2 separate regions of the Homo sapiens genome follow, and region 2 is linked to region 1. Evidence: fine-mapped expression QTL. A gene starts in region 1. The other region holds a variant in brackets. All regions are shown on one strand. Distances are between the middles of the regions.

Region 1 (14,758 bases):
CGCTGCTCTGGACAGGAGCTCTCCCTCTGGAAGTGCCCCCACAAGAACATCACAGCTGAGGATTGTTCACATAGCCAGGATGCCGGGGTCCGGTGCAACCTACCTTACACTGGGGCAGAGACCAGGGTCAGTCATCCTCTCTACCTTGGTTGAGGTCTCTTTCATCCTATCCAGGTCTGGTCTCCAATCTACAGTCCAATGGCCCCCAGCCCATTGCCCCAGGCCCCTGCCCTCCTGCAGCTCCCACCTGACCCATCACTTGCTAGCCCATTATGTGCCTGAGTCACGCTTCAGCCACATCTGTTAGAGACTCCCACTACCTCACCCCAAAGCTTTCTCCAGCGCTTCCATTCTGTGTCACTACAGATCCGACTCAGTGGGGGCCGCAGCCAACATGAGGGGCGAGTCGAGGTGCAAATAGGGGGACCTGGGCCCCTTCGCTGGGGCCTCATCTGTGGGGATGACTGGGGGACCCTGGAGGCCATGGTGGCCTGTAGGCAACTGGGTCTGGGCTACGCCAACCACGGCCTGCAGGTGAGTGGGAAGGAAAGGGGAGCCGAGGCTGTTGTCTCAAAGCCTGTGTTTTGGGCAGAGGGCTGAGGAATGAGTCCCTTGGCCCAAGATGCTGGATCCTGGGCCTTACAGAAACATCTGCATATGTCCCCAGGAGACCTGGTACTGGGACTCTGGGAATATAACAGAGGTGGTGATGAGTGGAGTGCGCTGCACAGGGACTGAGCTGTCCCTGGATCAGTGTGCCCATCATGGCACCCACATCACCTGCAAGAGGACAGGGACCCGCTTCACTGCTGGAGTCATCTGTTCTGAGAGTGAGTGAAGGAGGGGGTGATGCATGCCAGGGAAGGGAGTGTCTGGGCCACCCGTTTGCAGGGAAAGGGGGCTGTAATCTGGAGGGGCACTTCTTCCCCATAAAAGAGCCAGTTTCGCCGGGTGCAGTGGCTCACGCCTGTAATCCCAGCACTTTAGGAGGCCAAGGCGGATGGATCACGAGGTCAGGAATTCAAGACCAGCCTGACCAAGATGGTGAAACCCTGTCTCTACTAAAACTACAAAAATTAGCCAGGCGCAGTGGCAGGCGCCTATAATCCCAGCTACTCGGGAGGCTGAGGCAGGAGAATCACTTGAACCCAGGTGGCAGAGGTTGCAGTGAGCCAAGATCACGCCGCTGCATTCCAGCCTCGGCAACAGAGTGAGACTCCATCTCAAACAAACAAACAAACAAAAACAAAAACAAAAAACTAGTCTTACACACTAGGGAGGGATGGAAGCACCCCTCTCTGTGAAGTCAGCAGTGACTTCTAACACCCCCTTCCTTTCTTGGTGCAGCTGCATCAGATCTGTTGCTGCACTCAGCACTGGTGCAGGAGACCGCCTACATCGAAGACCGGCCCCTGCATATGTTGTACTGTGCTGCGGAAGAGAACTGCCTGGCCAGCTCAGCCCGCTCAGCCAACTGGCCCTATGGTCACCGGCGTCTGCTCCGATTCTCCTCCCAGATCCACAACCTGGGACGAGCTGACTTCAGGCCCAAGGCTGGGCGCCACTCCTGGGTGTGGCACGAGTGCCATGGGTGAGAGGGTAGGGAGTCAAGTAGAAGGGCAAGACCACGGGGGATGGGGCAAACCTTCTGGGGGCAGAGAAGGAAACAGAAGTTCCCTTCTCCCCACAGGCATTACCACAGCATGGACATCTTCACTCACTATGATATCCTCACCCCAAATGGCACCAAGGTGGCTGAGGGCCACAAAGCTAGTTTCTGTCTCGAAGACACTGAGTGTCAGGAGGGTGAGTTGGGGACTGAAGTGAACCACATGGTATCCATTGCACAGCCTTTCCTTACACTGACATATGCCAATCCCTCCAGATGTCTCCAAGCGGTATGAGTGTGCCAACTTTGGAGAGCAAGGCATCACTGTGGGTTGCTGGGATCTCTACCGGCATGACATTGACTGTCAGTGGATTGACATCACGGATGTGAAGCCAGGAAACTACATTCTCCAGGTACCTGGAGTCTGGGGCTTCCAGATGGGTGAGTGGGGGGAGCGTTAAAGACACCTTTGAATTCGAGGATTGTCGCTGGGTTAAGTGGCCTTTTTCTCACTCACAGGTTGTCATCAACCCAAACTTTGAAGTAGCAGAGAGTGACTTTACCAACAATGCAATGAAATGTAACTGCAAATATGATGGACATAGAATCTGGGTGCACAACTGCCACATTGGTATTTGATGGGAAGAGCAACCCAGGAAGATTAGGGGATGGGAGGGAAAGACGTTCATTCTCTTTTCCATAGCTTGTTTCTCCATCTTCCCACCTTCCTGTAGAGCTCTCAGTCCCTCCACTTCTACCCACCCTTCTCCACAGTGCATCTATCTCCCTCCCTCTGTGCAGGGCGCCTCCCAAATTGCCTGTCCACTCTGCAGGTGATGCCTTCAGTGAAGAGGCCAACAGGAGGTTTGAACGCTACCCTGGCCAGACCAGCAACCAGATTATCTAAGTGCCACTGCCCTCTGCAAACCACCACTGGCCCCTAATGGCAGGGGTCTGAGGCTGCCATTACCTCAGGAGCTTACCAAGAAACCCATGTCAGCAACCGCACTCATCAGACCATGCACTATGGATGTGGAACTGTCAAGCAGAAGTTTTCACCCTCCTTCAGAGGCCAGCTGTCAGTATCTGTAGCCAAGCATGGGAATCTTTGCTCCCAGGCCCAGCACCGAGCAGAACAGACCAGAGCCCACCACACCACAAAGAGCAGCACCTGACTAACTGCCCACAAAAGATGGCAGCAGCTCATTTTCTTTAATAGGAGGTCAGGATGGTCAGCTCCAGTATCTCCCCTAAGTTTAGGGGGATACAGCTTTACCTCTAGCCTTTTGGTGGGGGAAAAGATCCAGCCCTCCCACCTCATTTTTTACTATAATATGTTGCTAGGTATAATTTTATTTTATATAAAAAGTGTTTCTGTGATTCTTCAGAGCCCAGGAGTCAGTGCTGGTGGTTGGAGGGACCTGCCCCCACTGGTTCATTTAACCCTCTGTCTCGGTGCCCTCAGAACCTCAGCCAGAAAGGCAAGGAGGAAATCAGAGCAGGAGCCTCATACTCTTGGTGATCTATTCATTCTGTGACCTCAGGGGTCACATATAAGGTCAGTGTTTCTCGTCCCCGCCGGATCTGCACTGCCAACTGGGATTGGGTTCGAACAGCTTCATAAACATCTTCAGCATTTTGTACCATCTGCTCCCCAATGGCCAAAATCACATCACCAGGCCGCAGACCAGCCCTATAGAGAAAAATGGACAGAGAGAAAGGAAGGAGTACAAAGCCTAGTTCAAGGACACATGCACACCTTGCCCATCCCCATATCACACTGCAGCCTCTCCCTCACCGGTGTGCAGGGGAGCCCAGGATGACTTTATGGATGAGTACACCATGCTGAACATCGGGAAAGCTTGGTTCTCGAAGCTGTAGTTCAGCAAGGATGCTGAAAGTACACAGATCACCCTATTAGCCAAACCCAGGCATTCTCCCCATCCTGAGTTCCACCTCAAGTCTCTCATCAACACATTGATAAATATATGGACAGGACATGGGCTAGGTACTACAAAATACAATGGCAACTCACTTTCTGTCTTCTAGCAATAAAGTGCAACATGTACATAAAAGATGTACACCACATGAGGGCACCAAATGACAAACAGTGTTAAATCAATAGCACTAATGTCATTCTAGAATACTAAGAGAAGCTTTAAGGGGAAAGAACTTAAGTTGAGCCTAAAAGGATGGATCTGATATTAACCATATAAAACAAGAACAGCATAAATAAAAAACATGGGAGTAGGAAATCAGGTTGGCTGAGTATTCATATAGGAAGGTATTACAGCCAGGTCTAGAAAGTTGATTTACAGACAGATGGAAAATGGCCCTTAAATGCCAAGTTAATGGATTGAAGGCTTGAAATCAAAGCAGTAACAGGATGAAATCAATCTGGTGACAGGTGTACAAAGTGGAGTGGGATAAGAAAGTCAAGATGATGAAGGGAGACAGCTCTTGTGATTATTTCAAGTGTGACACAGTTCATCTTAGATAAAGACAGAAATGAGAACAAAGCTCAATAGAGGTGCCCCCCTCTGATTACACTGGTCACATTACATGTCACTGTCCCTAAAGCTCATACCTGGGACTCAGGGTCAGCATCATCACCCCAATGTAGCGCCGCTGGGACCCACTGATTCCGGAGGAGGAATCTGTGACAGAGGGACAAATGAGCCCCACCCAGCTACATCCTTCCTTCCCTGCCCTCTTCTCCCAGTAGACCACCCTCCAGGAAGTCCCACTGAATGCCCTTCCCCTATTTCCACCACATTAAAGGAACCCGTTTCCCCATAAGGCAGGCTCACTCTTCTTTTCCCCACGATGCAGAAACTCTCGAAGACGATCAGAAGGGATGGCAAAGGAGATTCCAGCTGTGACCTTCATGGTGTTCACTCCAATCACCTCCCCATCCTGCAGGGATACAGCCCCCAGTTCCCTAGCCTAAACAAATAGTAGGGGATGGGGGCACCCGAACAAAAGTACCAGCAAGTGTTGGGGAGATCTGGTTGGATATTGAGAGATAGCCAACAAAGAACTGCTCAGAAACTTGACCAAACATCCTTGAATTAGGGGAAACCTACCCTTCCCACACTGACCTGGGGCAGGGATTCTTGGAAGGAAGGATGTCTCACTCACCAGGTTAACCAGGGGACCTCCAGAGTTTCCAAACTGTAGGACAAGGAGAAAACATGAAAGAGATCTGGGGATTCTAAGTCTGGGGGCATACCAGGATGTAGGTACTTTCTCCAAATTCTCTTCTTTCTCAGCCCATGAATAAGTGGCCACATTTTTGCAGCCTAAGCTCTATATAGGCTCATCCACCATATATCAGTTGGTGCTTGTACCACACAGCCTCTCCCCCCTCCCCCATCATTTGTCATTTCTCTCCTATCAGGACGCACATCAATAGCTGCATCAGTTTGAATGTATTCCACATTGGTTTGGGGGAGTCCCAGGTCTCTGGCTGGACGCTGAGCAGAGCTAACAATGCCGGATGTGATCGTGTTCTGCAGTGCAAAGGGACTTCCCATGGCAACAACAAACTCCCCTTGCCGGACATCAGCTGAGCGTCCCAGAGGCAGCGTGGGGAGAGGCTCCTAAGGGAGAATGGGTAAAAGAGACCTGTCATCTGAAGATGCGAGCAAATAAGCAGCTCCAACCAGACCTGGCCTACCCCAGCCCCCACCTTAGTCTGAATCCTCAGCGTTGCGATGTCTGCCACGGGATCCACAGCTGTGACCACGGCCTCATACGTGTCGCCGCTTAGCAGTCTCACACGGACTCTGCGCCGATCAGCCACCACATGGGCGTTGGTGACAATGAGCCCATCGGCAGCCACCACGAATCCTGAGCCGTTCGAGATAGGGACCTCGCGGCCCAAGAAAGGGTGCCTGAAATGGAGGGAAAGCACAGATAAGAGGAGGCTCTGACCCCTCCTACCCGCCCGCCCTCCAGCCTGTGGCTTCAGTGCCTCCCGGTCTACCCCCACCATTACCGGTCCAGGATCTCGATATAGACCACGGCAGGTGCTGTCTTCTCCACCACATCTGCGATGAAGTTGTACTGACTCCGGGGAGAAGCGGGCGGCGGGCTAGGGACGGCGGCGAGGACGGCCGGAGGACCCCGACCCCCGCCCCACAACAACAACAGCACTGCCCCCCCAGCGCCCAGCGCCACCGCCAGCCACGCGCGCGAACGGGTTCCAGAGTTCTCTGAGGCCTCCCGGGTCCTGGTATCTGGGGTCACCGCAGTCAGTTGTGCCCGGGGACCCGGGGTCCCAGACGTCAGGCATGCTCGGGGTTCAGTGACCCCAACAGACAACCGGGCCCAGAGACTGGGGGTCCCATAAGTCACTCGGGCCCGGGGGTCAGAAGTTCCTGACGTCAGCAGGGCCCGGAGGTCAGGGGTCAAACGGGGTCTCCTCCCCCAGCGAATGCCCCCCAAAGCCCGCCATGCCCGAAGGCTCCAGCCTGCACCCCGCCCCGCCCTCGGCGCAGCCATCAGCTCCGCCTTGGCTGCCTCCTCGCCCGCCCTACTCAGAGGCGGCACCCAGGACGCGAGCAGGCGGACAGTAGGACGCGGGGCACGCCGGTACCTGAAGTCCTTCAGAAGTGCACGCCGGGACCAGGATTCCGGGAGGCCGACTCCTCCCTGCCCCACGAATGCCGGGAATTGTGGTCTCCGCCGGACGCGAGTTGTGAGACGGCCCAAGGGGCCGCGGGGTATGCTGGGACCGCTAGCCCTTCCGGCGCGCCTCAGGACTTCGGGTCCCCTCACCCCGGGCGGATGCCCAAAGACTCCGCCTTCCCAAGAGCCCCTGCGGCCGGGCGCGAAAATGGCGGCGGCGGCGACGGCCGGGCGCTCCTGAAGCAGCAGTTATGGAGCTTCCCTCAGGGCCGGGGCCGGAGCGGCTCTTTGACTCGCACCGGTAAGAGACCCGGCGGGAAGAGACCGATCCCCGCGTGCTCTCGGCCTTCGGCGCCTGACCACTTCGCCTCTCGCCCCCAGGCTTCCGGGTGACTGCTTCCTACTGCTCGTGCTGCTGCTCTACGCGCCAGTCGGGTTCTGCCTCCTCGTCCTGCGCCTCTTTCTCGGGATCCACGTCTTCCTGGTCAGCTGCGCGCTGCCAGACAGCGTCCTTCGCAGGTTCCGACGCGGGCGTTCGGGGAGTGTCAGAGCTGGGTCTGGCCCGAGGCCACACAGTCACCACCTCCTGTGTCCCCAGATTCGTAGTGCGGACCATGTGTGCGGTGCTAGGGCTCGTGGCCCGGCAGGAGGACTCCGGACTCCGGGATCACAGTGTCAGGGTCCTCATTTCCAACCATGTGACACCTTTCGACCACAACATAGTCAATTTGCTTACCACCTGTAGCACCGTGAGTGAGAGCGAGGCCGAGAGCGCCACGGGGCGGTTCCCTGGGGCCCAGCTGAAGGCCCCCCTGTCCCCACTCGCGTTCCCCATGGAGGATACTGAGCCTTACCCCTAACCCCGATCCTCTACCCAACATGTCAGTTTTTTTTTTCATTTTCCTCAATATTTTTCTTCTTGCTTTCTCTTCTCCTGGTTCCCAGCCTCTACTCAATAGTCCCCCCAGCTTTGTGTGCTGGTCTCGGGGCTTCATGGAGATGAATGGGCGGGGGGAGTTGGTGGAGTCACTCAAGAGATTCTGTGCTTCCACGAGGCTTCCCCCCACTCCTCTGCTGCTATTCCCTGAGGAAGAGGCCACCAATGGCCGGGAGGGGCTCCTGCGCTTCAGGTGGGTTTAGCACAGGTATGGGGCGCCAGCTGGGTAGGTGGTCAAGCTTGTGGGCCCTTGAGTTTTTACAACTTTCTTCGGCCCTTAGACCCCATCATCTCCAGTTCATTTCCTTTCTGTCCACTTTAAGTTCTTTCTCCTGAATCCCTTCATTCTTCAATTATGTGCTTGTAGAGTTTGACAGTTGCCTGTTATAAGGCAGGTGTGAGCTGCTGACTAGGCTGGCTGGATTCCCATCCTACTTTCTCCTTCCTCTTCTAGTTCCTGGCCATTTTCTATCCAAGATGTGGTACAACCTCTTACCCTGCAAGTTCAGAGACCCCTGGTCTCTGTGGTGAGTGTGTGTTGAACAGGGAATCTCTGGGGCTTGAAGGGGAAATTTCCCATCCCTGGCCCTGGCTTAGGCCTCATCTCATGCCCTCCCCTCAGACGGTGTCAGATGCCTCCTGGGTCTCAGAACTGCTGTGGTCACTTTTCGTCCCTTTCACGGTGTATCAAGTAAGGTATTAACTGTCCTCACATTTTGGTCGCTGGGGAGAGGCTCACCTCAAGGTCAAGGAATTAGTGGCCTCTGCCCTGTCCATTTGTAGATCTTTATATCAAGGTTCTACCACAGAGGCAACACAAAGTATTTACAGTATTTACTATTTTCCCACCCACCATGCAAAGAGGTACCAAAGTGGGGAATGGTGACAGCCTCTACCCTGGGTGCCCACAACATAGCCCTGGATTGTTTCTTTGCAGGTGGCTTCGTCCTGTTCATCGCCAACTAGGGGAAGCGAATGAGGAGTTTGCACTCCGTGTACAACAGGTGGTCGGGTGCACAGACAGGGTGGAGGCGGGGTCCCTGCTTAGGAGGAGAGGGAGGAAAGCTTGAGATCTTGACACTTCCAGTCTTCCAATTCTCCCTAGCTGGTGGCCAAGGAATTGGGCCAGACAGGGACACGGCTCACTCCAGCTGACAAAGCAGAGCACATGAAGCGACAAAGACACCCCAGATTGCGCCCCCAGTCAGGTATGTGGTCTCTATACATTACAGCTTTTGGGGTTTTTTTTTTTCGGCCTACTGTGATTCCTCCCCTATTTCTGTGCTAGTTAGCCTCTCCTTCTAGTTCTCTACTTACCAGAATTTCTTTTTTCTTTTTTTCCTTTTTCCACAGCCCAGTCTTCTTTCCCTCCCTCCCCTGGTCCTTCTCCTGATGTGCAACTGGCAACTCTGGCTCAGAGAGTCAAGGAAGTTTTGCCCCATGTGCCATTGGGTGTCATCCAGAGAGACCTGGGTATGGGAAAGGGTGGCCCCACACTGGGAGATGGGCACAGGGAGGAAAAGTGGGTTGTGAAGGAAGAAAGTAAGTAGGGAGTGGACTCCCTTCTCTTTTCTCCCCAGCCAAGACTGGCTGTGTAGACTTGACTATCACTAATCTGCTTGAGGGGGCCGTAGCTTTCATGCCTGAAGACATCACCAAGGGAACTCAGTCCCTACCCACAGCCTCTGCCTCCAAGGTGAGACCCAGGAAATGGTCAGATCCAAGTGTTGGGGTGAGTTGGGGGCAGGCTATGTACTCCCTTATCCCTGACCTTTCTTTTTTGATCCTGAGACCCTAGCATAGTGCCTCTCTTGCAAAGTAGGCATTCGATGCGTGTTTAATGATGATGACTCCGCAAGCCCTCTGACATTGTGATCACCTCAGTTTCCCAGCTCTGGCCCGGTGACCCCTCAGCCAACAGCCCTAACATTTGCCAAGTCTTCCTGGGCCCGGCAGGAGAGCCTGCAGGAGCGCAAGCAAGCACTATATGAATACGCAAGAAGGTGAGGGGGTTAGAGGACAATTAATAGGATGTGGCAAATTGGAGAATGGAATTATGGAGCTACTACGGCAAAGCCTGAATAATATCTCTCCCTATGTCCCACAGGAGATTCACAGAGAGACGAGCCCAGGAGGCTGACTGAGCTCAAAGGAACAGGATGGCACCCAGAGCCGCAGGACGGAGACTGGGGGCAGCCCTCACCCAACTCACAACAGGCTGGATGGGTGGGTGGTAAAAAGGGAAGGATGAGGCTCCCCCAATGTCACATTAAATTCATGGTTTTCATTCAAGGCATCTGTTGTCTCTCTCGGTCTCAAAAGCCCTGTGAGTGGGTTCCTTATTCCTTGGCTGCGGGGGATGGGGGTGAGAGTCTTCTCGTACATTTGAAGGGGGTAGTCAGACTGCAACTGTCTAAAATCACCTCCTCATGCCAAGTGATGAGTGATAAATTAAGGAAGTGTAACTGAACTGAAGACCCAGCTTGGGTGATCAGCCCAGGTTTTGGAGGAAGCTGCTGCAAAACTACAAGTCCCAGCATGCCTTTCACAAGCACACTACACATCATCTATAGAGTTCACACATGCTCAGTGTGGTAGCTGGAGCCTGTTTTCCATAGGTTCCTGACTAGGTTAAATAAGGTGGAGCAAATAGCCCCACCCCAAAAGCAGGCTTCAGGATTTGAAGTTTGAGCCCATCCCTGAGGTAGAGCCGGAATTTACCTTTGTACTTCACACGGTCAGGGTTGGTGGTGACTACGTGGGTCTGGAGCTGACTGCCGTCCTGACACGTCCTAGAGCTGCAAGCAGGTTTGAATCCAGGATCCCTGTGACTCTGCTGTTCCTCTCCCCACCCCCTATATTCTTTATCCTTTTCCCTTCAGGACTTTCCCACAGGTTACTAGGTCTCACATAATTTCTACTGCCCTTGAGGACCCCTGCCTAAGTAAGATTTCTACTACCTGCCAACGGGGTAATAGTCTCAGGTAGATTTCTACTACCTGACTATAGGGACTGTCGACTAACTCTCAGTAGCCCTTTATCAAAATACCTAGCACTGTTTCCTGGCAGGAAATGCTGGGAAGGGTGGGCCCCAGAGCATGATCAACTGAAGGTAGAGGTTAAGGATCAGGGCTGAGGTGGGAAGATGGTGTCGGTCACCAAATATGACCTTACTGGCTGCTCTGCCTTCTGCAGGTCCTGCCAGAGAGCCACCATGACCTCTCAGCCTCTCAGGCTAGCAGAAGAGTATGGCCCAAGTCCTGGGGAGTCTGAACTGGCTGTGAACCCCTTTGATGGGCTTCCCTTCTCTTCCCGCTACTATGAGCTGCTGAAGCAGCGCCAAGCCTTGCCCATCTGGGCTGCTCGCTTTACCTTCTTGGAGCAGTTGGAGAGTAACCCCACTGGAGTGGTGCTGGTGTCTGGGGAGCCTGGTTCTGGCAAGAGCACCCAGGTGTGGTGGGGGTTGTGGGGGCAGGCAGATTCTGGGAGTGGACAAAGGGAGGACAAAGGGAGGACAAAGGGAAAGTGGCCTTTCCCTGGGCAAGGGGGGACTGGGCTGCGTGGGGTCATGAGGAAGGTGAACGAAGAGAGATGGGATGGGTTAGGTTGGCCCTGGAGGCTGGTGAAAGACCAGGGGACTCCCCAAATAAGGAAAGATTAAAGTGGCCATAGTTCCCTGAGCACTTCTGACTGAAGTCCTACATCTTCCTCACTGGCTCTCCTTCCCTACTTCTATCCCAGATCCCTCAGTGGTGTGCAGAGTTTGCGCTGGCCAGAGGGTTCCAGAAAGGACAGGTTACTGTTACTCAGCCCTACCCTCTTGCAGCCCGGAGCCTGGCTCTGCGGGTTGCTGATGAGATGGACCTGACCCTGGGTCATGAGGTTGGATACAGCATCCCCCAGGAGGACTGCACGGGGCCCAACACCCTGCTCAGGTGGGGGCCTCTGCAGGCCTTACCCGAATATAATTCCCCTTATTCAGTAGAAACAAACCCATTCCTCTGGCATCTCACCATACCCTCCCTTAGCCCAACTCACTCTTTTTTATTTTATTTATTTTGGAGAAAGGGTCTCACTCTGTCACCCAGGCTGGAGTGCAGTGGTGCAATCACAACTCACTGCAGCCTCAACCTCCCGGGCTCAAGTGATCCTCCCACCTCAGCCTCCCAAGTAACTGGGAATACAGGCGCGCACCTCCACGCCTGGCTAATTTTTATATTTTTTGCCATGTTGCCCAGGCTGGTCTCAAACTCCTGGGCTCAAGTGATCCACCCACCTCGGTCTCCCAAAGTGTAAGGACTACAGGCATGAGCCACCGTGCCTGGCCCCAACTCACTCTAAATTGTGTGTGGTGCAATGGCTAAAATAAGCCCTTGAATCCCAGCCAGGGGCCTCAGACATTCAGCCTCACCCTCATCAGAAAAATTTCACTTCCCAGCTGGCGTATACCTTGTGAACAAAGTGTTCTCAGCGGGGTTGTGGGGTGACAGTTATGGGTCCATAGGCTCAGGAAGTCACAGCATATTTTTCTGACCTTCAATATCAAAATATACGTCCCTTGGGGAGAAGATTCCCTGAGCTTGTGGGGCTGGTCAGTGTCCACACTGATTCCTCTGCCCACTACCAATGTCAACAGGTTCTGCTGGGACAGGCTGCTTCTGCAGGAGGTGGCCTCGACCCGAGGCACTGGAGCCTGGGGCGTGCTGGTACTAGATGAGGCTCAGGAGCGGTCGGTGGCATCAGATTCACTCCAGGGGCTACTGCAAGATGCCAGGCTGGAAAAACTTCCGGGGGACCTCAGAGTGGTTGTGGTTACTGACCCAGCCCTTGAACCTAAGCTCCGAGCTTTCTGGGGCAATCCTCCTATTGTGCATATACCCAGAGAGCCTGGTGAGAGACCTTCCCCCATCTACTGGGACACCATCCCACCTGATCGGGTGGAAGCTGCCTGCCAAGCAGTGCTTGAATTGTGTCGGAAGGAGCTTCCAGGAGATGTGCTAGTGTTCCTGCCCAGTGAGGAGGTAAAAAACAAAACAAAACAAAAAAAACAGCCTGCAAAATGAGCCTGCAAAAGGAGGTACTCATCATCATCTTCCAGTCCTGAGGAATGGGAATGGGAGCAATGCCTCTTAGGAACAGTAGAGTTGCAGTATTTACTCTCCGTTGGGGTCCCAGAGAAAAACTTGAGGATTTCAGGGTAAAGAGGTTTACCACTCACTTTTTTATTCCCTTTAATGCAGAGATTTGTGATTCAGTGAACCCCTGAAATTATAAAACCTTCAACTTTATGAGTAATTTGCATTTTCTCAGAGTGAAGGGCCATAACTTTCAACAGTCTTTCAAAGGGATCTGTGACCCCAAAAAACGTGAGAACTGCCCTAATGCCCCACCCACCCTTCTTCTCAGGAAATTTCCCTGTGCTGTGAATCCTTGTCCAGGGAGGTAGAGTCCTTGCTTCTCCAAGGGCTTCCACCACGAGTACTGCCCCTTCACCCAGACTGTGGACGAGCCGTTCAGGCTGTGTATGAGGACATGGATGCCCGAAAGGTTGTGGTCACTCACTGGCTGGCTGACTTCTCCTTCTCCCTCCCTTCCATCCAACATGTCATCGACTCAGGACTGGAGCTCCGAAGTGTGAGTGAGAGAGAGAGATAGCGGTGGGGTAGTAAAGACAGAAATGGCCCACTCTGATCTGTCTTGGCCTTGGTTGGGGGACGGGCAACAGGTTTACAATCCTAGGATCCGAGCAGAATTCCAAGTGTTGAGGCCAATCAGCAAGTGTCAGGCAGAGGCAAGACGATTGCGAGCAAGAGGGTTCCCACCAGGTAAGAGCCTTTGCCCTCACTGAAATAAAAAACCCAAGAGTCACCAACATGCAAGCCCTGAGAAATCTACAGTGGTCTTCTTTCCCAGGTCTTTTTCCCCTCAGGATCCTGCCTCTGCCTGTATCCTAAGTCCTTCTTAGAACTAGAAGCTCCACCATTGCCACAACCCAGGGTGTGTGAGGAGAATCTGAGCTCCCTGGTGTTACTACTAAAAAGGAGACAGATTGCAGAGCCAGGGGAGTGTCACTTCCTGGACCAGCCTGGTGAGCACCTCTCCTGCCCAAGCACTGCCATCTGACCACCCAGTTCTGAAACTTCATATCCTGTAAGCCCTGTTTCCTCACCAGCTCCAGAAGCACTGATGCAAGCCCTGGAAGATTTAGACTATCTGGCAGCCCTGGATGATGATGGGGACCTGTCAGATCTGGGTGTCATACTATCAGAATTCCCTCTGGCCCCTGAGCTGGCCAAAGCCCTGCTGGCCTCATGCGAGTTTGACTGTGTGGACGAGATGCTCACCCTGGCTGCCATGCTCACAGGTATAAATCGCTGCTGTAAATCCATAGCTCTTGAAACCACTTCAGCCCTTCCTCTTGGGTTTTGGTGCTCCTGAGGCTAGCCCTTTCCTCTCTGCTCCAGTTGCCACCCCTCACAATGCCTAAAGAACCAGGCTTAGTCACCCATCTCCCTCTTGTCTCTTTAGCCTTTTTTCTCTGCTGGTTCTTGCCCTCAGCATGCTTAAATCTCTCCTAATCTGTTATTGCTAAAACTCACACACCCCTCTTCCTCAACCCTATCCTCCCCTTCAGCTATGCAGCATGATTTCTATCCTGTTCTAACTGGTGTATTGCTCACCCACTGCACTCCAGCTTCAGGTCTACCATGCCAGTGAAACAGCTTTCAACTCACCAGTGACCTTCCAGGTACCTAATCCAGTGGATACTTTTGAACCCTTATTCATGACCTTCTTTTGACACTTGAGATTGCTGACCGCTCCACCTTGAAACTGCCTCCTCCCTAGGCCTCTGTAACGCTGCTCCTCATGGATTTCATCCTACGTCTCTGGTCATCCCCTTTATCTTTTCCTTGAGCTCTTTGTCCTCTTCTTATCCATTGTAAATTGGTCCTCAGGGTTCTATTCTTGCCTCTTTTGTCTTCTATTCCCTGAACTCTCTGAGCAAGTTTATCCACACCCATGGTTTGAAGTGCTACCTTTAGCCTTAAAATTTCCAAACCTTGTGCCGTGTATCTCTCACCCAATACCATTCTTCGAATCTGAGAGACAGAGAGAGAGCAAGGGAGAGACGCATGGGGAGAGGGGGAGAGAGGGAGAGGGAAAGAGGGGGAGAGAGGGAGAGGGAAAGAGGGGGAGAGGGGGAGAGAGGGAGAGGGAAAGAGAGGGAGAGAGAGAGAGCATACTCCAACTCCTGATGAACGTTTCTTTTTTTCTTTTTCTTTTTTTTTTTTTTCAGACAAAGTCTCACTCTGTCACCCAGGCTGGAGTGCAATGGCATGATCTCAGCTCACTGCAACCTCTGTCTGCCTGGTTCAAGCAATTCTCATGCCTCAGCCTCCCAAGTAGCTGGGACTACAGGCACGCACCACCATGCCCAGCTGATTCTTGTATTTTTAGTAGAGACGGGTTTTTGCCATGTTGGCCAAGCTGGTCTCAAAGTCCTGACCTCAGGTGATCCATCCACCTCAGCCTCCCAAACTGCTGGGATTACAGGCCTGAGCCTCGGCACCCAGCCCCTG
Region 2 (14,758 bases), 200 kb before region 1:
CTCCCACGTTCAAGCAATTCTGCTGGCTCAGCCTTCCAAGTAACTGGAATTACAGGCACCCACCACCACACCCGGCTAATTTTTGTATTTTTAGAAGAGACATAGTTTTGCCCTGTTGGCTAGGCTGGTCTTGAACTCCTGACCTCAAGCCAGGAGGTCAGGCTCGATCATCAGGTCAGCTGATCTGCCTGCCTCACCCTCCCAAAGTGCCGGAATTACAGGCATGAGCCACCAGGCCCGGCCAATATGTCCTCTTTTTGTCTGGCTTCTTTCAGTCAGCATAATTATATTTTGAGATTTGACCATGTTGCAGGTACCTTCAACTTTCTTTTTAAAGCAAAAATATTGAAATACCTCTTTTACTATGTGAAATTAAATTCATAGTTAAAATAATCAACCTACACATTATTTTCTTTAAATTATAATGTCCTTACGAAGGAGAAAAAAAAGGAAAGTAGTTCACGGCCCAAGATGGTTTACTAAGTAGGCACATGGGCAGCATACCTGGGAGACATAATGAAACAGTTAGATGCTTTCATTTTTTACAATGAACAGTCCAACCTTAAAAGAAGTTAGACCATATTCAACTGAATATTGTTGATACCATTGTTCATTTTATTTTGTCATATTTCTTATATTTGCCATCTTGAAATAAGATCTAAGTTAGTGCATTGGAACCCCTCTGGGTAAGAGGGACAATTGCAAACCTAATTTTTGCAATTGTAAAAATTATCTGCATATTTGATCATGAGCAGTGCTGTTGCCATTGACATGTTTTTCTAAATGGTGACAACCCTTGGTTAAGTTCTAAACAAAACAAAGTCCAGTCTCCTCTCAATTTACATAGTAGCTGCATTTTAAAAAATCACAGGGTATGTTAAATCCATGTGAAAAAAGTATTTGTATTTATATATAAAGCAGAGCTGATATCAAGAATCAAATCATTATAAAGAGCTTTTCACCCACATAACTGTGCAGTAGGACATAGAATAGGACACAGACAGGGTTGCCAGATTTGGCCCATAAACATATAATATTTGAGACATACTAATACAAAAAAATGTATTTGTTGTTTATCCAAAATTCGATTTTAACTGAGTGTCCTTTATTTTAGGTGGCAGCCCTAGATACAGGACAATCTTTGTTTTGTGGAACTGTCCTGCAATCCAACTAGCATTCTTGTCCCCCACATATTAAATGTTAGTAGGCCCCCCAATAACTGTGATAACTAAAAATCCTCACAACTTTCCAAACTGCCCAGGAGCTGCCCCTACTGAGAACCACGGTCCTACAAAGGAGATCACCAGAAGCAAGCCCTACCCCTGCCCATAGAGCCCACATCAGATTCTTAGTGATTGACTCAAATATTAATGAATGGTTAAGGATCCATAGACATCTGAAAAAGACCCCCAAGGTGAAAAACAAAGGCCAGAACAGACAGAGAAAAGGGACTTGAAGAAAAGAACAAGAAGAAAAACAACTTTAGAGGAAAAACTGTATGTATTCTTTGGAGAGATAATAGCAAGAAGAGGATGCTATAGAAGGAGGAGGAGGAGAAACAGGAAACCTATCAGAGAAGTTGGAAATTAAATATGATAGCCACAGTCAAAAAAAAAGTCAATAGGGAGGGTGGAAGGTAAATTCAAGGGAGTCTCCCCAAAAACAAAACAAAATAACTAGGAGGTAAACAATAGGGAAAGAAAATGAGCCAGAAAATTAGAGGATCAATTCAGGGAGTCCAATATTCAAGTAATAAGAATTCTAGAAAGAGCAAACAAAAACTTGAGAGAGAAGAAATTTATCAAACAAATAATAATTTTTAAAAATGCTTCAAACAAAAAGATTAAAAGAGCCCATCAGGTACCAGAAAAAGAATATAACTTCTGCCATGATCATATTTTAGAACACCAAGGAGGAACAGAAGTTTCTAAAGAGAAAAAAAATTACATCCAAATAACTAAGAATAAGAATGGCCACTTCTTAACCGTAACAGAAAAAGCTAGAAAACATAAAGCACTGCTTTCCAGGTTCTGAAAGGAAAAAAATTATTTTCAGTCTAAAATTCTATACCCAGCCAAATTATCAGTCAGGCATGAGGACAAAGGAAAAATACAGGCTTGAAAGATCTCAGAAAACTTTGCTTCCACGGACTCTTTCTCAGGAATAGTTATTTAAGAACATGTTCCATGAAAATGAGAGGGTCAATAAATCAAAAAAAAAGAAAGACTTAGGATCCAGGAAATGAGATCAAACACAAATAAGAGTCAAAAGGGATTTCCAGGTTGATGAAGGGAAGGCCTAGAGCCATGCTGCACAGCTGTTTCCAAGAGCAACAAGTCAGCCTGAAGCAAGAGGATGGAGTCAGGAAAGTTATCTGGTAAGTTATTTAACAATGGGAATAATCATGTTCAGATACTACCCAAAGGAAACAAGTAATTTAAGCAAATGGATGGAAAGGCAATTATTAACCCTAGGAATATCCAAAAATGTATAAAAATAAAACATTATAATATACTCCTTTGCTCTGCAATAAACAATATTTACATAGTCATAATAATATAACATTTTATAATATAAAATAATATAATGAAATAATATATAAAAAATATAAATCTGAAATCAGAACAGAAAGAAAGTTATATCTCTTGTAGTTCATGAGAAAGCCAAAAGATAAAGTTTAAAATTGATGCCTCAAACCAATGATACGCACATATCAAATAGAATAAAAATAGAGATAAACGGCAAAGAAAAAAACTTAATAAGAATAAAGGAGTGGATGGGGCAGGAGACTGCTGTTTTTTCATAGGAGACTTCTGTCATTAACTTTTAAAGATATGTGTGTACTGCTTAGATAAAAGGAAAAATTAATTTCAAGAAATTAATGGCTGTGGTGGAAGTAGTCTGGAAAGGTTCCAGCAGGAAGAGCTGCTACATTCTGTCACTGAATTTAATCATTGAGCTACTCTCGACCCTGGGATGAGGCCAAGTAGACAGGCTCCTTTGAAAAGGGAAACCAATGACTCCTTCTGATTAGAGAAGGCTCGGAGGAGAGGGGGTTTGGGAAGGACCCTGCTGTGCACACCTGCCATGGCCATAATCTCTCTCTCTTATTCAATTTTTTGCCAAGTCACTGGGAGCAGGAAGCTGCTTTTTCTATTATATAGAGCAACAAAGGGGATGAGTGGTTTGATAATGAGGACTGATAACTGTCTAATACAGAGAAAGCCTGGGCTTCCCAAAAGCTTTAAATTACAACTTTGATCGCACTGATCAGGGTTCTTGAAGTTGCAGCTGGGACATAGAGAAGCCACAGAAGATGCAGTCTGAATGTTTTCTCAAACACAAAGAAAGACCTGGAGTCAGATTAAACAAAGATTTCCAGCTATTGAAGCAGATCAGTGGCGGGGGCGGTGGGGAGGTGGGAAACTAAGAGATGTTTCTGTGTCTTCAAATCTTATTATAAATTGCAGGTTGCCTTGTGTGTAAAGTGGAGATTAGAAATCGTTTAATTGCTGTTCAGTTTTAATGGAGAGTTTTATTTTAGTCAGAAAAAAACACAAATGGGTTATACAGGATGTGATAGTTTATGACTCAGTTAACCATACTTAGGAAAAACCTGTCTGCTTGGATCATAAGTCCAAAAGCCAGCCTCCACTATTCACACAAGTGGCAGCTTTACCTGGGCTACAGGCCTGGTGCCTAGGAGGAGCAATCACCTTACAGTGGCATTGCCTAACCTAGGACTTGGTGAGAAACAGCGTGTCCCTTCTGAGCCTGTGTATATTTTCAAACTAGGCTGTCTCAAGCCAGATGTATTTGTATATGTTCATCACAAATTCTGATTGAGGTAATGCTGACTTGATTCTGCAGACCAAAATTTACTGCATCTCAGATCTGTTTCAACAACTATTCCATTAAGATCCTTTGAACATCACATCTAATGTCCATCCAGTTAGGTAGTGTGGGGGTTGGGGTGGGAGGGGTTGAGGCCTGGCCTTCTCACCCCAGCTCTGCACAACTCTGAAAGTCACGTCTAGCTTCATCACTCTCTATAGGATCCATTGAGGGCGTTGTAACAACATCATAGCCAAGTTCTCCCTCTGCTCAATCCTGCTTTCTTCCTGCTTCCTGATTTTAGGAATACTTCCTAATTCATGTGTGCATACTAATCTCTAAAAAACAAACAAACAAACAAAAAACCCAGAAAACTCTTTGAACATTTAGTAAGAGCAGTAAAGATCTACAAACCAGAGATTATGGTCGTCATTTCCAAAGAGGTTTTTTTTACCAGACTTTGGCTGGTTTTTCATAAGCTGTTTTAACTAGATGCTAAATATCCCCCTCAAAGTTGATTTGATTTGGAAAAAAAAAAAGACAAAAAGATGGGCTCAGGACATAAATACAATGTGCAGTTCTACCCTCAGTAGAATGAACAAACCTAAATTCTCAGAGGTATCTTACATGACTTTTTGTGACTCCACAGATCTGAAACCACTATCTCAAACTGCAGAGCTCTTGGCTCCCTCAGATAACCTGTGGCAAAATCTCCCCTCATTACTGATGAAGTTTGAGATTTTCCTGGACTCTGGCTACCGTGGCCTGACCATTAGTCAAGAGATAGTCAGTCAGGGCCTCTTGTGCTCCCTGGGGGTATTCATGGTGGAGGAGGATATTAGCAGCATGGCTGTCTACACCAGCAATTCTTACAGCAGGTCATGGTGGAGTTCACGGGCGTGCACATGTGAGAAAGAAAAGGCCTGCCTCACTCCCTCTGTTACCTGCCTTCCAACTTCCTCTAGGAATAACATGCTAACAACACAACTTCCTCCACTCGGGTGACCACATACTATTCAATTACTGCTAGACTAGCACCATGTATTAAGTGATTAACATGTGCTAGGCCCATTTCTTATCTTATTCAATTCCCATAACAATCTCCAGAGAACATGGGTACCCTTTCCCAGATGAGAAAACAGAGGCTTTTAGAGGTTAAGTAATATGCCAAAGACCACATGGAGTTGGTATTCAAACTTATGCAATCTGAGCAGGCATCCTGTTTCTATTTATTTATTTTATTTTATTTTATTTTATTTTATTTTATTTTATTTTATTTTATTTTATTTTATTTTTATTTTTTAGATGGAGTCTCGCTCTGTCGCCCAGGTTGGAGTGCAGTGGCGTGATCTCAGCTCACTGCAAGCTCCCCCTCCCAGGTTCATGCCATTCTCCTGCCTCAGCCTCCCAAGTAGCTGGGAGTACAGGCATCCGCCAACATGCCCGGCGAATTTTTTGTATTTTTTAGTAGAGACGGGGTTTCACCGTGTTCGACAGGATGGTTTCAATCTCCTGACCTCATGATCCACCCGCCTCAGCCTCCCAAAGTGCTGGGATTACAGGCGTGAGCCACCACGCCCAGCCTTCTATTTATTTTTTTATAAATAAATTCAACTTGGGTTTCTGCCACAACCAAAAGAGTGTCATTCAATACAGAAAATTAATGTGATGGGCAAAACACGAAACCACAAAGCCAAAAGAAGAACAGGCAGCTGGGTCTCAGAAGCTTCTGCAGCCGCAGGGTCACACGCTCAGGGCTTCACCCCTTGTTTCTATTTCTCTACGTGTGTTGGTTTCTGGCACTGAGTGGTTGGTGATATTTTGGACGAGGATAAGTGTTTCTGTATTTCTGAGATTAAAGGTGATTTTCAATTTATTTTAACATTTTTTCTATCACTTTTTTTTGTTTTCTGCAATAAATTTATTTCTTATGTGATTTTTTAAAAGGCGTGAAGAACACAAATAAAATCAAAACAAACTCCAGAGTGCTCACTGTTCATCCCCTAACTGCTAACAATCCCAGAAAATACATCGGGCAGACTCCTAGATGCAAGAAAAGTGGACTGAATGTGGCTGGATAATATGCTGAAATGTCCTTTTTTTCTCTCTCTCTCTTTCTCTCATTTTCTTTTTCCCTTCTTCTTTCACCCCAGTTTAAGGAGTAGCCTACTCCATCTCAGAGGAGGTATGTCATGGGGCAAAATATAAAAATAATATGCAAAATACTTTCCTTCCTGGATTTTAATCCCAAGAACTTAAACAATAGAGAAGGGAGAAGAATTGAGGATGAAGGTAGAATATGTGGAAAAAGCATGAGCAGAAAAGGATTTCCTCAAAACTCAAAAAAAGACTTGCCAGGGAGGGAGTAGGAGGCAATAGTTACCAAAAATTAAGCTTTTTCTTCATTATTTTTTTTTCTTCTCCCCGCCCCGCCACCTTTTTTTTTTTTTTTTTTTTTTTTTGCTAGCTCCATACTAAATAATTATATAAAACTTTTTAAGGCACATTTCTAGTAATTCATACATTGAAGCATGTAAAATTATACATGGAAAGCACTGACATAAGGAAATATTTCAGCATCAACTGCAGAAGCACCTGAACAGGCACCCCCACCAAAAATATTTAGGAAGCTCTGCAGAGAGGAAAAAAGCTATTCGATCAAGGATCTGGGATTATTTCTACTTTGAAACTACTCATTATTAGAAATAACTACAGAGTTCTAGAGACAGAGATTAAGAAATAAAGTCCTGCAAAGATATATTTGTTACTCTGCTTTCTTAAGAACTTATGGGAATTACACATTAATGTTTTGTTTTTGGTTTTGTTTTTCCCCTGCATAAATGCCTCTGTTTTGGTTTCTGCTTCTCAGCTTCTGAATGTCACCCACCAAGAAGCTGTGAGCTGGATGCTCCACAGATATGATATACAGAGCCTTCCCTGCTGGCCTTTTTCCTTCCATCTGGAGATCAGCCCGGGTCCATAGGTAAATCACATCTTCCTACCTAATAATGACCAACTGCTAAAACCCAGGTAAGAGTACAAGGCTTGGAATTGGGGAAAGGGAAAAGGCAGCATTTTATCAGCTGATTCAATTTTTTGTTTGTTTTAAAGGCTTTTTAAAAATAAACTTATTTTGGAATAATTTTAGAAAAATTACAGAAAAGTTGCAAAGATAATACAGAGAATTATCATATACCCCTCACCTAGTTTCCCCTAATGTTACCATCTTATATTACATGGTACACTTGCTAAAACTAAAAAAAAAAAAAAAAAAAAAGGGTACATTATGATTAACTAGCCTTTATTCAGATTTCACCAGTTTTTCCACTAACATTCTTTTTCTGTTCCAATTCAGGAAATCACATTGCATTTTGTGATTTATAATTTTTAAGTTTAAGCTCTATTTTTACAAAAGTTAACATGTCCACAATTGAAAAAGGAAATGATCATACATGACTTATGAAAGGCAATCTTCTGCCCAAACCCTCCTTGCTTCTAATTTTCTCCTTCCAACAGCAAACAATTTCAACTTTCTCACTTTTTTCACCCTCTCTCCCTCGGTCCAGCCACACTGTTCTCTGAACATTCCTCAAGTATGCCAAGCCTATTCACATTTAAGGCCAAATCTTTGCTCAAGTTTTCTCTTTGTCATGTCTTCTTCCCAATAAAGTCTACCCAGACAGACCACTCTATTTAAAATTGTGGAGACTTCTGGTTCTGAAATGGCAGAACCAGAAACGAGTGTAGAAACAAGCTGGTGTAGAAACAAGCTGGCTTCACTCACCCCAAAGAAAACCAAGATCAAATATACAGTGCTGAGATTATCACTAGCAATAAATTATAACTCAAATATGAAGATGAGAAAGTTCTCCTGGCCTCAGAGAAGCGAAAAAAACTCCAAGCAGATGGTAAGAGACTTGGACTTCCATATCTGTGACACCCCTTTCCCCAGTCTGCCTAGCACAAAATGCATAGAAAATTTCCCCTGACGCATGGTTTCTACACTGGAAAAAGTGAGTTGGGGTGGACAACCAGCTTGCCCACCCTCTTGGTTCTCTGTCAGGAGACCTGTCCCTGCCTCAAACCACAGGATGCACTGGGAGTGCTTGAAAGGAGAAATCACCCTAAGGAAACTGAGGAGGCAGGACTACCATCTCCAGCTGTGAAAACTGCTCTCAGCCAAAGAAGACACCAAATTAGAGCAGCACCACACTGTAGGTTTGTTCCACATATCCTTGGGCATAAACTCTTAACCAGCCTTTCGATATTACCAGGATATTCCCCCTTGAGACCTACCCCATTCAGTACTGGTGGTACTCTGGTTGTTTAATAGAACCAGGGCAAACCCGGGCTTAAGGCACCATTTAGTGCCAAAAAGGAGGCAGCAACCTAGCAGTGGAACATAAGAAAGAAAATCAACTGATAAATTACAAAGAATCTCTAAGCAAACATACCCAATAAAAACCAAAACAAGCCAGACAAAGAAGACTGGAATAACTAATCCTTCAATGCAAAAACATAGACATACATCCACAAGAAACGGCAGCCAGTAGAGTGCTATGACTGCCTCAAATGAACAAAGCAAGGAACCAGTAACTGACCCTAACAAGATGGTGATATATAAACTCTCTGACCAAGAATTCAAAATGGCAGTTTTAAGGAAACTCAGTAATTTCCAAGATAACATGGAAAAGCAATTCCAAAATTTGTCAGAGAAATTTAACAAAGATATTGAAGCAGTTTTTTAAAACACAAATCTTGCGGCTGGGTGCAGTGGCTCACACCTG[T/C]AATCCCAGCAGTTTGGGAGGCCGAGGCAGAAGGATCACTTGAAGCCAGGAGTTTGAGACCAGCCTGGCCAACATGGTGAAACCCCATCTCTACTAAAAATACAAAAATTAGCTGGGCATGGTGACGCATGCCTGTAATCCCAGTTATTCAGTTGGCTAAGGCATGAGAATTGCTTGAACCTAGAAGGCGGAGATTGCAATGAGCCAAGATTGCACTGCTGCACTACAGCCTGGGCAACAGAGTGAGACTCTGTCTCAAAATTTAAAAATAAAATAAAATAAAGTATAAAAAATCACAAATCTTGAAACAGAAATACGTTTACTGAACTGAAAAATTCATTAGAGGCTCTCAACAGCAGAATGGATTAAGCAGAAGTAAGAATCAATGAGCTCAAAGACAGGCTATTTGAAAATACACAGAGGAGAAATGAGGAGAAAAAAAAGAATGAAAAGAAATACAGGTCACCTACAAAATATACAAAACTACCTCAAAAGACCAAATCTCTTTTTTTTTTTTTTTTTTTTTTTGAGATGGAGTCTCACTCTGTCGCCCAGGCTGGAGTGCAGTGGTACAATCTCGGCTCACTGCACTGCAACCTCCCCCTCCTGGGTTTAAGTGATTCTCCTGCCTCAGCCTCCTGAGTAGCTGGGATTACAGGCATGCGCCACCTTGCCCAGCTAATTTTTGCATATTTAGTAGAGACGGGGTTTCACCATGTTGTTCAAGCTGATTTTGAACTCCTGACCTCATGATCCACCTCCCTCGGCCTCCCAAAGTGCTGGGATTACAGGCATGAGCCACCGTGCCTGGCTCAAAAGACCAAATCTAAGGATTACTAGTGTTCAAGAGGGAATTGAGCAAGAGCAAGGAATAGAAAACTTACTCAAAGAAATAATAATAGAAAACTTTCCAAAACTTGAGGAAAAGATAAATATCCAGATACAGGAAGATCAGAGAACACCAAACAGGTATAACCCAAATAAACTACCCCAAGGCATATAATAATCGAACTCTCAAAGGTCAAGGACAAAGAGAGATCCCTAAAAGCAGCAAGAGAAAAGAATCAAATAACATATACAGGAGCTCCAATTCTTCTGGCAACAGACTTCTCAACAGAAACCATACAGGCCATCAGGGAGTGAGATGACATTTTCGAAGGGCTGAAAGAAACAACAACAACAACAACAACAACAACAACAACAAAAACTGCTTACCAAGAATAGTTGTAACCTGCAAAGCTATCCTTCCAATATGAAAGAGAAATAAAGGACACACACACACAAAAAAAGAAAACTGCAGGCCAATATCCCTGATGAACACAGATGCAAAAATCCTTAACCAAACCAAATTCAACAACATATTTAAAAAGATTCACCATGATCAAGTGGGATTCTTCCCAGGATACAAGAATAGTTCAACATACGCAAATCAATAATGTGATACATCACATTAACAGAACCAAGAACAAAAACCACCTGATCATTTCAATAGATGATGAAAAAGTATTCAACAAAATTCAACATATTTTTCTAATAAAAACCCTCAACAAATTGGATATAGAAGAAACATACTGCAAAATAACAAAGGCTACATATGACAAACCCACAACTAACAGCAAACTGAACAGGGAAACATTGAAAACCTTTCCTCTAAGGTCTGGAACAAGACAAGGATGCCCACTTTCAACATTTTTTTCAACATAATACTAGAAGTCCTGGCCAGAGTAATTAGTCAAGATAAAGAAAAAAAGGACATTCCAAATGGAAAGGAAAAAGTCAGACTAGTCTTATTCACAGAAAACATGATCTTAGAAAAACCTAGACTCTACTGAAAAACTGTTAGAACTAAAAACAGATTCAGTAAAGTTGCAGGACACAAAATCAACATACAAAAATCAGTAGAGTTTCTATATGCCACTGTGAACTATCTGAGAAAGAAATAAAAAAAGCAATCCCATTTACAATAGCTACAAAAAAAAACCTAGCAATAAGTTTAACCAAGGATATGAAAAATCTCTAAAACTATAAAATATTAATGAAAAAAATCGAGAGGGACACTAATAAATGGGAAGATAGCTCATGTTCATGAATTGGAAGAATTAATATTGTAAAAATGTCCATGCTATCCAAAGGGATCCACAGATTTAGTGCAGGTTCTATCAAAGACCAAAGACATTCTTCAGAGAAATAAAAAAAAAAATACTAAAATTTGTATGAAACCACAAAATACTTCAAATAGCCAAAACAATCTTGAGCAAAAAGAACAAACCTGAAGCCATCACACTACCTGACTTTAAAATATACTGCAAAGCAATGGTACTGACATACAAACAGATGCATAGACTAATAGAACGGAATAGAGAACCCAAATATAAATCCCCACATTTGCAAACAACTCATTTTCAACAAAGGTGCCAAGAACATACAATGGGGAAAGAAAAGTGTCATCAATAAATGGTGCTTGGTAAACTAGATAACCAAATGCAGAAGAATGAAACTAGACCTTTATTTCTTACCACATACAAAAATAAATTCAAAATAGATTAAAAATTTAAATCTAAGATCTGAAACTATGAAACTACTAGAAGAAAACATTGAGGAAATCCTCAAGGACATTTGTCTGAGCAAAGATTTTTTTGCTTTCTGAGCAAAGACCCCAAAAGCACAGGCAAGCAAAGCAAAAATAGACAAATTGGTTACATCAAGCTAAAAAGCTTCTGCACAGAAAAGGAAACAATCAATCAACAAACATCATATGTTCTCACTCATATGTGGGAACTGAAAAAGTGGATCTAATGAAGACAGGGAATAGATTGGTTGTTACCAGAGGCCAGGAAGGCTAGGGGGTGAGAGGGATAAAAAGAGGTTGATTAATGGGTAAAAATATGCAGTTTGATAGAAGAAATAAGACCTAGTGTGTGATAAATTAGTAGAGTGGCTATAGTGTACAATAATCTATGGTCTATTTCAAAATAGTGATAAGAGAATAACTGTTTCTAGCATAAACATTGTTAAAATGTTCATACTAACCAAAGTGATCAGAAAGAAAAGCATAAAGAACAGATATTTAAGGTGATGGATATCCCAATTACACTGATTTGATCTTTACAAATTATATGAATGGGATAAATTATTGCATGTACACAGAAAATATGTAGCTATATTTTGTGTCAATAAAAATAATAAGGCTCAGCACAGTGGGTCACATCTGTAATTCCAATACTTCAGGAGGCTAAGGTGAGAGGACTGCTTGAAGCCAGGGGTTCAAGATCAGCTTAGGCAACATAGTAAGACTGCATCGCTACAAAAAAAATAAACAGCCAGGCACGGGGGTGCACACCTACTGTAGTGCTAGCTACTTGGGGGGCTGGTGCAGGAAGATCACTTGAGTCCAGGAAGGACTTCAGTAAGCTATGATCACTCCACTGCACTCCAGCCTGGGTGACAGAGCAAGACTTTGCCTCAAAATAATAATAATAATTAATTAATTAAAATTAAAAATAGCCTGGGCACAATGGTTCACACCTATAATCCCAGCACTATGGGAGGCTGAGGTGGCCAGATGGCCTGAGGTCAGGATTTCAAGACCAGCCTGGTAAATATGGTGAAACCCCAACTCTACTAAAAAATACAAAAATTAGCTGGGCGTGGTGGCAGGTGCCTGTAGTCCTAGCTACTCGGTAGGCTGAGGCAGGAGAATCGCTTGAACCCAGGAGGCAGAGGTTGCAGTGAGCCAAGATCATGCCACTGCCCTCTAGCCTGGGTGACAGAGCAATACTCCATTGCAAAATAAATAAATAAAAATAAATAAACTTATAGGCCAGCTGTGGTGGCTCATGCCTATAATCCCAGCACTTTTGGAGGCCCAGGTGGGCAGATCATCTGAGGTCAGGAATTCGAGACTAGCCTGGCCAACATAGCGAAACCCTATCTCTGCTAAAAATACAAAAATTAGCCAGGCACCTGTGGTCCCAGCTACTCAGGAGGCTGAGGTGGGAGGATCATTTGAGCCCAGGAGGCAGAGGTTGCAGTGAGCCAAGATCACGCCACAGCACTCCAGCCTGGGCAACACAGTGAGACTACATCTCAAAAAGTTAAAATAAAATAAGATAAAATTATAATACACCTCACCCATGCACTCCCAATGTCCCTTACTCTAATTCTTTGTTCTTTTTTTCCACATAATGCCATATACTTTATTTATCTATTTATTATGTATATTGTTTATTATTTCTCTTTCCCTACTGGAAGGTAAACACCTAGAATAGTGCTGGGCCAGACAACAGTCTTTAAATAAATATTTGTTGAATAAATGAATGAATGAACATTGAGAGAGAAGTAAGCAGACAGGAAGATGTTCTTTCTGTCTTCCTCCTCCAACTCTGCAGCATCCCTCTAATTTCCATACTGACAGAGCCTAACATGAAGACAGCCAGCAAAGAAGAAATGTGGTTTGCAGCGTTCCAGCCCCAGCATCACAGAGCAGAGTGTAAAAAGGTGAGCTTATGGCTGAGAAACAGTGTAATAACTGAAACACACACACTCAATTTTCCTGCACTAATCTTCCCAATATAGTTATATTTCCATTTTTGTTTAAATTTATATTATTCTTTACATTATTTTTAATATAGAATATTATTTGCCGCTGAGTCATATGGTGTGCAATGATTACATTTCCTTTCTTACACAACTTTCTGTTTTTCCAGGATTTAATAATTGCTTATCTTTCTTCATCTCAATTTCATTCCCCAAATTCTCACATAACACTCCTCTCAATACAGTCAAACACATCAGGAACCTATCAGCTCATTTTTTTTCATGACTAGATGCTTCAGTGCAGTCCTCTGTCCTCTTGTATTTTCATGTTTAGCTTCTTTGTTTCTAAGATTACTTCTTCCCCTATTCTCTAACAGCCTCTTGATACAGTTTTCCACATATTCATATGTATCTGATGATCCATCTATTATTTTGTTTTCCTTCCCCATGGAGCCCTGTACCTCTCCTACTGCAGACTGGATTGTTTCTTCTTGAGGCCTGCTACACAGCTGTTCTGGAACTTCCCTTCCCCAGCATTATTCTGAATGTCCTCTCCTGTGTTGAATCCCATATTTCCCAGATCTCAATCTTCCTCTTTCCTGGTTTAATCATTTTTGAGGCTCACATTCTCCAGTATCTTTCTGAGAACGAATGCACAGGATATAAGCATTTTGCATGTCCGAATTTGTCTACTGTAAGACTTTATGGATGGTTTGTCTGTGTAAGAAAAATCTAAATTCAAACTACTCTCCTCAGTATATCAAAGGTATTGTTCCATGGGCTTTTAATTCCTCAAGTTGCTATTGAAAAGTCTTATGTTACTCGGCCTCTCACTCCTTTATATGTATCCAATTTTTCTTTTTTGTGCTTCTCTCTGGACTTTAGGACTTTCCTTTTTTTCCTGTGTTTTTTGTTTGTTGTGGTCTCTGGTGATCCATGACTGTTCACTCATATGTGAAAGTGAGAAACCAAAAGGCCGACTGATAGTTCAGTGCATGTGAGCAGGGTTTGTTGATTGTCAGGTCTTGCCTTGCTATAGGATGATTAGGTGGGGACCCAGCGATTTTGTTGATGAGTCCTTTCTGTCAGTATTTTCTTTTAGACTTGTCAGTTTCTCCAGATAGAAGTGACTGTGTTTCTTGTCTTAGGTATTCCTGATGACGGTGAACTGTAAGGAGGGGAGCCTGCTTGGCTTGTGAACTTTTACTTAATACCGCTCTTCAAATACAGTGCTTCTGCTCTGCCCTCTGCCATACTGAGTCCCCAATTCCCTGGCCTCTTCAGTCAGCCTCTGCAGAGAAGACATTCGCCCCAGTGCCCTGGCAGAGCAGACAATCACCTGGCTGCGTAGAGTGAGGAAGGAGCTGTAGAAGCCTAAGCGTCTCATGCCATTCTCGTTTGGAGTCACATCCTGAACCGCTTCCCAGTTCTACCACCTATGGCCCTGAAGTATCACGTAGGGAACTCAACTTCTCCCTCTGAGCTTGGAAGACCTTTGAAACACATAGGATGTCCAGGGCCCTCTTGGCCCTGGGATTCTATGATCCATGAACCTTCAGAAGCTAGAGAGCTCTGCCTAGGTAGTAACATAGACAGGAAGA

Alleles and levels. Alleles are on the strand shown, and positions count from the first base shown. SD is a standard deviation of normalised expression in the study named.
For the expression in esophagus muscle of the gene that starts at base 6,416 in region 1, allele T in region 2 goes with a higher level than allele C (moderate effect, 0.66 SD a copy in GTEx).

The links.
Region 2: its variant is fine-mapped to the expression of AUP1 in esophagus muscle (GTEx, PIP above 0.99). The same link has a PIP of 0.9 or more in sun-exposed skin and testis.

The regions. Positions count from the first base shown.
Region 1 is chr2:74,521,364-74,536,121 of GRCh38, reverse strand. AUP1 (AUP1 lipid droplet regulating VLDL assembly factor) reads left to right here and starts at 6,416. Exons shown (of 12, transcript NM_181575.5): 1 at 6,416-6,542; 2 at 6,623-6,760; 3 at 6,840-6,990; 4 at 7,187-7,371; 5 at 7,633-7,705; 6 at 7,801-7,874; 7 at 8,116-8,182; 8 at 8,284-8,386; 9 at 8,532-8,651; 10 at 8,759-8,874; 11 at 9,063-9,181; 12 at 9,286-9,470. The coding sequence starts at 6,493. The coding sequence ends at 9,322. DQX1 (DEAQ-box RNA dependent ATPase 1) reads left to right here and starts at 9,891. Exons shown (of 12, transcript NM_133637.3): 1 at 9,891-9,986; 2 at 10,374-10,629; 3 at 10,920-11,113; 4 at 11,815-12,199; 5 at 12,585-12,812; 6 at 12,904-13,003; 7 at 13,108-13,266; 8 at 13,351-13,542. The coding sequence starts at 10,393. It overlaps HTRA2 (HtrA serine peptidase 2), which reads right to left and starts at 6,189. Exons shown (of 8, transcript NM_013247.5): 1 at 5,610-6,189; 2 at 5,301-5,505; 3 at 5,017-5,211; 4 at 4,751-4,783; 5 at 4,420-4,525; 6 at 4,197-4,266; 7 at 3,408-3,503; 8 at 2,803-3,302. The coding sequence starts at 6,115. The coding sequence ends at 3,137. It overlaps LOXL3 (lysyl oxidase like 3), which reads left to right. Exons shown (of 14, transcript NM_032603.5): 7 at 1-126; 8 at 367-534; 9 at 668-830; 10 at 1,348-1,591; 11 at 1,691-1,806; 12 at 1,886-2,022; 13 at 2,129-2,240; 14 at 2,443-3,864. The coding sequence ends at 2,516. RefSeq lists enhancers at 5,083-5,292, 5,303-5,382, 5,413-5,482, 5,503-5,632, 6,088-6,970 and 2 more and a silencer at 6,023-6,112.
Region 2 is chr2:74,724,091-74,738,848 of GRCh38, reverse strand. All of the region lies in intron 2 of LOC102724497 (a long non-coding RNA gene), which reads right to left. Among named protein-coding and RNA genes, the nearest start is that of SEMA4F, 77 kb to the right of the region's middle. The variant T/C (reference allele first, on the strand shown) is at 8,622.